Regions from separate parts of the Homo sapiens genome. Here region 2 is linked to region 1. The links come from fine-mapping of genetic effects on gene expression. A gene starts in region 1. The other region holds a variant in brackets. All regions are shown on one strand. Distances are between the middles of the regions.

Region 1 (4,387 bases):
CCTGACAAATGAAGAGTGCAGTTTTCCAAGGACATTTAAAATAGAAGTATAAGCTGGTCAGGGTGGCTTATGCCTATAATCCCAGCTACTCAGGAGGCTCAGGCAAAAAGACTGCTTGAGCCCAGGAGTTCGAGTCCAGCATGGGCAACAAAGCAAGACCCCCATCTCCAGAAAAAAAAAAAAAAAAGAAAGAAAGAAAAGAAAGGAAAATATAATTTTCTTCAGAGAAAAAGTCTCACTCTGTCACCCAGGCTGGAGTGCAGTGGTGTGATCTTGGCTGACTGCAACCTCCGCCTTCTGGTTTCGAGCAACTCTCGTGCCTCAGCCTCCTGAGTAGCTGGGGACTAAAGGTGCGCACCACTATGCCTGGCTAATTTTTGTATTTTTAGTAGAGATGGGGTTTTGACATGTTGGCCAGGCTGGTCTTGAGCTCCTAACCTCAACTGATCCACCACCTCGGCCTCCCAAAGTGCTGAGATTACAGGCATGAGATGCCATGTCCGGCCATTTTTCTTTTTTAAAATAATTTTTTAAATGAAAATATTATTAAATAAATGAACACCATGAATTTGCATGTCATCTTTGTGCAGGGCCATGCTAATCCTCTCTGTATTTTTCCAATTTTAGTATATGTGCTGCTGAAGCAAGCACAATTTTCATTTTTTTCAATTGATTTCAGCTTCTGCAGGAGGAAGTATAATTTTCTGATGGCTTCTAAAGAGGAACAGTTAGCAGTTATTGAGATATAATCATGTAAGGTGGTGTAGGATGGTGATGCCTACTCCAGTCTCCTTACCCAGGCTGAGTTCATATTTTTGTTAGAAGAAGCTGCAGGATGGAGAATTTGGGGTCTGGCTCAAGAACAGTGTGAGTACAGGTGATGATCACAGGGGAATACATTCCACACGGGGAGTTAGCAGTCCTGCCTCTACTCTACTTTGATGGCTGATTGAGAAGTCACTTACTTTGAGCCCATTTCCTCCTCTGTGGGGGAAAAAAAGGGTCAGCCTAGATAACTCAGAATATTTGTTGTAAAATTGACTGTCTCTGGGAGGGAGTGTGGGTGGGGCTACCCTGAGCCATCTGAACTCTCGGAAGTCCTTCAGAGTGAACACAGATCAGCTCTTGCTGTTCACTTACTCACATTTCATCTGTGGTGTCAGAGCCTCAGGGACCCAGCAGAACTGGGGAACATCCTCCAGTTACAGCATGTACTACCTGCAGCCTGATAACCATCACTGGGGTGGATTTCCAGCCTCAGATGTTCAGGTGCTCTTTTTGGAAACACACACTTCTCACGTTACTGCACCAAATATGGGTCCCCAAATGACAGCCATAGCGCATGTCGGGGAGAGCTGCAGTGGGTCAAGTGATGCCTTTAACCAACTGAACGCAGTTTTCGGTCCCTGAAAACTATTTGCTTCCTTATCAATCAACCTGAAGGGAATGATGGAGGTGACACTGGGAGTCTTGGTAGGTTTCCAGACTTTCATAAGTTCGGGAGAAATTATTGACTTAGCATAGATGTGAGCTCAAAGAAACATTTCCTAACAGCAATAAAAATAAGCATTAGAGTTGAACAATGGACTGTGACTGTTTCCCAAAATAGCTGTTTTCTTGAGTCCGCAGAACAACAGGTACTGTATTAATGGGGATACAGTATTTGTTTCACAGCGTTGTTGTGAAGATAAACGGGATACCCCAGATAAACAGCTTGTGTCCCCCCCATCTTAACAACCCTCCTTTAGGCTGGCGGGCCACCTGCTCAAAAGCCTTCCCCAGGGGGGTTAAAACCGTCTTTTAGTAGTTCTGGTACGGGTGGGCTGGGGGAGATCCTCTAAAGCCAGTGCGACCTTGACCCCAGCCAATGTCCAGGCTCTTGACACATCCAGAGAATGAGTTCAAGGACAACTCAGAAAATAGTGACAATATGCAGATTTATTGCAAAGGGAAAAGTACACACCCAGGAAAAGGGATTGTGGAGAGGGTCACTCACAACGGGGCTTGGGGCTGCTACCTTTATGGGTTTCTTTAACCAAGGGGTGAAATATTCATGAAAATTCCTGGAAAAGTGTGGAGATTTTTCGGGACTGTGGTGCCACCCATTTTTACTTCAAATATGGGTGTCCCCGGAATTGTCATGGCACTGGTGTGACTTAGGATGTTAAAGAGCGTATAATGGAGGCCTAGGAGAAACCTAGGTCAAATCCAGGACCACGTCGGGTCCAGCCGGTCTTAGCCAGCTTGGTACACACCCTGGTTTTCAGGGTCTTATCAGCCCATAGCCTCCAGTCAAGTGAAACTGCTGCCTGGTATTTTTTATTCTCCTCTGACCAGCCTGCATTACTCCTGTCCCATGTTCAACACGAAATAGGGCCTCAGGAAATATTTACCAAATGAATGAATGGTTGCCTGTTCTAATTTTGTTTAACCACACTCTTGTCCTAAGCTTCTATGATGATACCCAGGGCCCCCGAGTTGTGCCAGTTCCACTACGGCGTGGATGCAAGGCGAGCGGCAGGGGAGCAGGTAAAGGATGAGTAAGGGAAGCCGGCGGATCCGACGCATTAGAGAACAAGAAAAAGAAATCCTTAGAGACTGGGGGCCAACAAAGAGCCAGGCGCGGGCGAACCCACCAGGGGGGCCCCGGAGCCCCACATCCGCCGCTGGGACGACCTCCCCGCCCAGCATGGTCCGGGGCGCGGACCCGGCCCCGCGCCAGGCGCCCCCGGCCCCGCACCCGGCGCCCTCCGCAGCTCCCGCCCCCGGGGCGGTGCCGGGAAAACGCGGCGCCTCCGCCGGTCACGTGGGGGCCGCTCCGGCGGGCGGCGCTGCCGCTTCCCAATCGCGCCCTCCCAGCGCCGGGGACGCGGCGCCCGCGCTCCCGCCCGAGCCCGGGGAAACGGAGACAAGGAGGCGCCGCCGCCCCCTCCCCGCGGCTGCGCCCCAGCCCTGCGCCCGCAGCATGCCCGCCGCCGGGCCGAGCGCCGCCCTCCCCCAGGAGCTCGAGGAGGCGACGCCGCTGCCGGCCGCGGGACCGCGGCTGCGAGGGTAGCGGGGCCGGAGCCGGGCCCCCCGAGGCGCCGCGCGGCGGGCGGAGAGGGAGGAGGAGCAGGCATCCTCCGCGGCGCGCGGGCGGCGGCCCTGCTGCCCGGCGCGCCCATGGCCCGGCCGCAGGGAGAATGCAAGCTGCTCTCCACGCGCTCGGCGTCCCCCGGAGCCGCTCGCGTCGCCGCCGCCCCCTAGCCGCCAGCGCTCGGCCGCTGGCTGCGCTAGGACCCGCGGCCGCCGGCCGCCGAGCGCGGGAGGGCAGGCAGGGGCAGGAGCCGGAGGGCCCGGGGCGCGGCGCGGCATGTAGCTGCGGGCTCCCGCGTCCGCGTGAGGCTGTCGGCCCGGGGCCCCGCCATGGCTGGGATGGACAGTGGCAACCTGAAGACCGCGAGGCTGTGGCGGGACGCCGCCCTGCGTGCCAGGAAGCTGCGGAGCAACCTGCGCCAGCTCACGCTTACCGCCGCCGGGGCCTGCCCCGGGGCCGGGGCCGACGCGCTCGAGTCCCCCGCCTCCCCCCAGCTCGTGCTGCCGGCCAACCTCGGGGACATTGAGGCACTGAACCTGGGGAACAACGGCCTGGAGGAGGTACCCGAGGGGCTGGGGTCGGCGCTGGGCAGCCTGCGCGTCCTGGTCCTGCGCAGGAACCGCTTCGCCCGGCTGCCCCCGGCGGTGGCCGAGCTCGGCCACCACCTCACCGAGCTGGACGTGAGCCACAACCGGCTGACCGCCCTGGGCGCGGAGGTGGTGAGTGCTCTGAGGGAGCTGCGGAAGCTCAACCTCAGCCACAACCAGCTGCCCGCCCTGCCCGCCCAGCTGGGCGCTCTCGCTCACCTGGAGGAGCTGGATGTCAGCTTTAACCGGCTGGCGCACCTGCCTGACTCCCTCTCCTGCCTCTCCCGCCTGCGCACCCTGGACGTGGATCACAACCAGCTCACTGCCTTCCCCCGGCAGCTGCTGCAGCTGGTGGCCCTGGAGGAGCTGGACGTGTCCAGCAACCGGCTGCGGGGCCTGCCTGAGGATATCAGTGCCCTGCGTGCCCTCAAGATCCTCTGGCTGAGTGGGGCCGAGCTTGGCACGCTGCCCGCCGGCTTCTGCGAGCTGGCCAGTTTGGAGAGCCTCATGCTAGACAACAACGGGCTGCAGGCTCTGCCCGCCCAGTTCAGCTGCCTGCAGCGGCTCAAAATGCTCAACCTCTCCTCCAACCTCTTCGAGGAGTTCCCTGCCGCGCTGCTGCCCCTGGCTGGTCTGGAGGAGCTCTACCTTAGTCGCAACCAGCTCACCTCGGTGCCATCCCTTATCTCGGGCCTGGGCCGGCTTCTCACCTTGTGGCTGGATA
Region 2 (4,387 bases), 36 kb after region 1:
ATAAGGTATTTGGGCTTTCATAGTGATGAAATAAGTGGTTGTGGGTTTGTATACGTATGTATACATAAATATGTATGCGTATGAGCCCAGAAGAAATGGAAACGAGACCAATGATTTAATTTGCATGAAAATTAGAACTGTCTGCCAAGAGCAAACATCTCTCTCACCCTTTTTCAAGAGAAAAAAAGGTCTTGTAGTTTGGCATGACTCAGTGGATGACCTCACACTGATTCTCCTTTAGTTATTGCTTGAATGCGTGGAGCCCTCAGTCCTAAGTGAGGCGGTCTGGGTGATGTTATGGCATTTCATTTGGGAAAGCGGCTGTCACTTCATCCTTAAGCCTCCTGTTTGCTGTGATGGTGGCAGAGCCACTCTCAGCACCACAGGAAGAGCCCCGGGGAATTCCTGAAGACACATTCTAGAGAATCCGGTACAAGTGTATGTAGGTTGGTCACCTTGATGCCTTATTTTCTCAGGCTTCTAGTAGAGATGCATGCCAGCAAAATGGAAAGGAACAGAGGGCGTTCTTGAAGTTTCCTAACTGGCGTATTTTCTCCTTCTCTTTTTCTAATAATTAAGTACAGGGGACTGAGAAGGCAGGGGTTGTTGTTATTTTTACATGGAATGGACCTAACCTAGCAGTCAGATGAGATTGTTGACGCGTAGCACAGTCTGTTATCTTTGGGCATCTGCCACCAAAGAGAGTGTACCCAAGAAGGGCTGTCGTGTGAGTGGGATGGGTTTCCATCTTTTGTTCTGTGCTCTTTCTGTGGAATCTCAGGCCTGCGTGTGCTCCCTCTGACCGTACCTTGACTCTTGATGAAGGATTTGCAGCCCTGAGAGGGAGCAGGCAGACCCAAATTAATTATTTCCATTTTTTTTGTGGCACTGTGGGACAATGGGAGAGAATACAGGCTTTGGAGCCAGCCAAATGTGTTTCAGATCCTAAATCCTCCACCTAAGGTATGCAGTCCTGATGGGTAAGTTATTTTAATTTGTTTGAACTGCCACTTAACTGAAAATGGGATTAATACCAGATATCACTTAAAATTAGTAAAAAATACAGTTGACCCTTGAACAATGCAGGCATTGGGGGCACCGACCCCCCATTCAGTTGAACATCTAACTTTTGACTTTGCAGAATTTAACTACTAATAGCCTACTGTTGACTGGAAGTCTTACTGATAGCATTAACAGTCAATAGCACATATTTTGTACATTATAGATATTAGATACTATATTCTTACAATATAGTAAACTAGAGCAAAGAAAATGTTACTGAGAAAACCGTAAGGAAGAGGAAATATATTTACTGTTCCTTAAATGGAAGTAAATCATCGGTGAAGGTCTTCATCCTTGTCATGTTAAAATTGAGTAGACTGAGGAGGAGGAAGAAGAGGAGGGGTTGGTCTTGCTGTCTCAGGCATGGTAGGGGTGGAAGAAAACTGTCATATAAGTAGACCAGCACAGTTCACACCCGTGTTGTTAAACGATCAACTGTATTTTATTAAGCTGTCTTTGAATAGCACCAAGTATCTTAGTGTATGAGAAGGCCTCTGAGAAGTTCCACAGTTAGGAAACATGGTGAACTTTTTTTTTTGGTGTGAGGGGCACAGAGTCTTGCTCTGTCACCCAGGCTAGAGTGCAGTGGTGTGATCTTGGCTCACTACAACTTCCACCTCCTGGGTTCAAGTGATTCTCCTGCCTCAGCCTCCCAGGTGGCTGGGACTACAGGCGTGTGCCACTACACCCATGTAATTTTTGTAGAGACGGGGTTTCGCCATGTTGGCCAGGCTGGTCTCGAACTCCTGACCTCAAGTGATCCTTGCATCTCAGCCTCCCAAAGTTTTGGGATTACAGGCATGAGCCATCACTACCAGCCGTGGTGAGCTTTGTTTAACCAAGCATTTTTCAAACTTATTGACTGAAGAATCTTTATGTGTGTGTGTATGTGTGTGCATATGTAAGAAGTAACATCCGCTGGAGCTGGTATTGTGCAGAAAATATGTTGAGAAATATAAAACAGATATCTGGCTTGTGTTCCTCTATATAGTCTTTTTTGACTGAGAATGCTTTATCCTTGTTGTTACGGATATTTTCACTTTGTTTATTTCTATTTTGGTCTGAATCATGAGTGTAGTTGATCCTTGAACAACATAGATTTGAACTGCTTGGGTCCACCTCGACGCCACCTGTGCATACGGAGGGCTGGCTCATCTCATATGCAGGTCCCGAGGGCCAACTTCAGGACTTTATGCATAGATTTTGGTGTGCTGGGGATGGGGGCCCTAGAACC[C/A]AACCCCCCATATATATACCGAGGGAGGACTGTCTATTTTTGTTTTTTACCTGTGAGGCCATCGCCACAATGAAGAGAGTATCCCCCAAAAGGCATATTTTTAATATAGTTGTAATTATAGCATTGCATAATCGTTTTCAGTAACATAGGTCTCATCTGTTGCTCTAGGTCTTAGTAAAATAAATCACTCTTGTTGAACCCTTCCTAGGCTCCAAAACTGGATGGGCCATTTAATATAATTTTAAATATTAAATTTAAATTTTCTTTCATTTATTAGAATTTTCAAAGGGTAATAATGTTATATATTTAGATTTTGATGACATGGAGACATCTGAGACTTGCTTAGTTTTAAAAAAGCAAAATTTATGTCATACAGCTCTTGTAAGGACTGAATAAAATAATGCATATAAAAATGCCTAAGACAATGCTTGGCATGTAGTGGGCACTTACTAAACAATTTCCTTCCTTCCCTTGCTGGCTTCTTAACTACTCCCTGCCTTGTATACCCCCTGTGCTCCGTCCCAATTTCTGTTCAGATACTAGACAGATGGCTGTTGCTTTGGGATAGGTCAAAGGCTGTCAGGCGTGGAGGCAGGCAAATGACCCAGATCAGTGAACACCAGTCATTGTCTCAGAGCATTTTGTTTTGTTCAGCTCAGCTATTTGAATCATCTTGGATTTTCTCATTTGTTTAGAAAAAGGTTTCCCCAAAATTGGTGGTGTTGGGTTCCTGATAGCAAAATGTATCAACAAGTGGGCAGTCAGCATATGGAATTTGCCCAACTCTACAGGGAAACTTGCTTTAGGTATTTTAAAAGTTAACTTGTCAATGTCACTGTAGGACAGTTATATATCTACTGAGTTTACAAACAAAAGATTTTTTTTTGTTTTTTTTTTGAGACGGAGTCTTGCTCTGTTGCCCAGGCTAGAGTGCCTTGGTGCGATCTTGGCTCACTGCAACCTCTGCCTCCCGGGTTCAAGCGATTCTCCTGCCTTAGCCTCCTGAGTAGCTGAGACTACAGGCACCCGCCACCATGCCTGGCTAATTTTTATATATTTTTTGGTAGAGACGGGGTTTCACAATATTGGCCAGGCTGGTCTCGAGCTCCTGACCTTGTGATCCACCTGCCTGGGACTCCCAAAGTGCTGGGATTACAGGCGTTAGACACCGCGCCGGGCCTGAACTCATTTTTAATTAGAATTCTTATTATTTCAGTGGCTGAATGGAGGAAAAAAGAAAGGACCTAAGCCCAGAAAATTCACAGGTTTGTTTCAGGGTAGAAAAATTTGGCATATTTTGGCCTGGAAGATATCTCATTATGGAATCAGAAATCTGAAAGGGATATTAAATTAGGAGCAAACTTGTGCTGTGTTGGTTAACCACTGAAAGTTGCATTGGCAGTTTAGTAACTAAACAATAGGGCCACACGCGGAATTTATTGATGTCTCATGAACTTTCTGTTTAAATCTTTATTGCTTTGAATTGATAGGCTTCTTTTTTCCCTTCCACTTTGCTTAAGGGACTGAATCTGTTTTTGGCATTCTAAGACTCTTTTTAGAATTTGGCAGTGCCTCTCTAGGATGTTTTCTTCTGCACTGCCTCCAAAACAAAATTATGAACAGCCTGGCTCTTTCGGTATCTCTCCTCTTTTTTTTTTTTTTTTTTTTTTTTTTTTCACTTTCCTGATGTGAAAGTGTCAGGTTTTGAGCCAGTTTGAAAGATGAGAACTAGAATATATTTCTCTTTCTGATCTAGAGAATCCTAGTGGCTTCTAGGGCAGTGTATAAACAAAGCCCTGTGGCTGCAAGGTTTCCCGTGTGCAGCAATAAACTGATACATGCCGGTGACAGGAATCTGGCTCATGGGCTTGAAACCATCCATTAACTCATTAATTGACCAGACATCATGGGGGTCTGCTGAGTGCCATGGGGATGCTCTGTGCTGGGAAAGATGCAAAGATGAATAGGCTAGGAATAAAAGACCAATTTCATTTTTTAATGTGTCAGTATTTTTAATATTGAAATGTAGGACCTTGCAAGTAAAATACTATTAAGCTAATTTCCCAATTTAGAGTCTTTGAATTATTGTCT

Evidence for each region.
Region 2: its variant is fine-mapped to the expression of MFHAS1 in whole blood (INTERVAL, PIP above 0.99).

What each region holds. Positions count from the first base shown.
Region 1 is chr8:8,892,077-8,896,463 of GRCh38, reverse strand. It overlaps MFHAS1 (multifunctional ROCO family signaling regulator 1), which reads left to right and starts at 2,834. Exons shown (of 3, transcript NM_004225.3): 1 at 2,834-4,387. The coding sequence starts at 3,406. It also overlaps the pseudogene RNU6-682P. RefSeq lists silencers at 2,689-2,938, 2,949-3,228, 3,339-3,608 and an enhancer at 3,453-4,387.
Region 2 is chr8:8,856,566-8,860,952 of GRCh38, reverse strand. The region is part of intron 1 of MFHAS1 (multifunctional ROCO family signaling regulator 1); the gene reads left to right. Among named protein-coding and RNA genes, the nearest start is that of MFHAS1, 35 kb to the left of the region's middle. RefSeq lists an enhancer at 318-527. The variant C/A (reference allele first, on the strand shown) is at 2,297.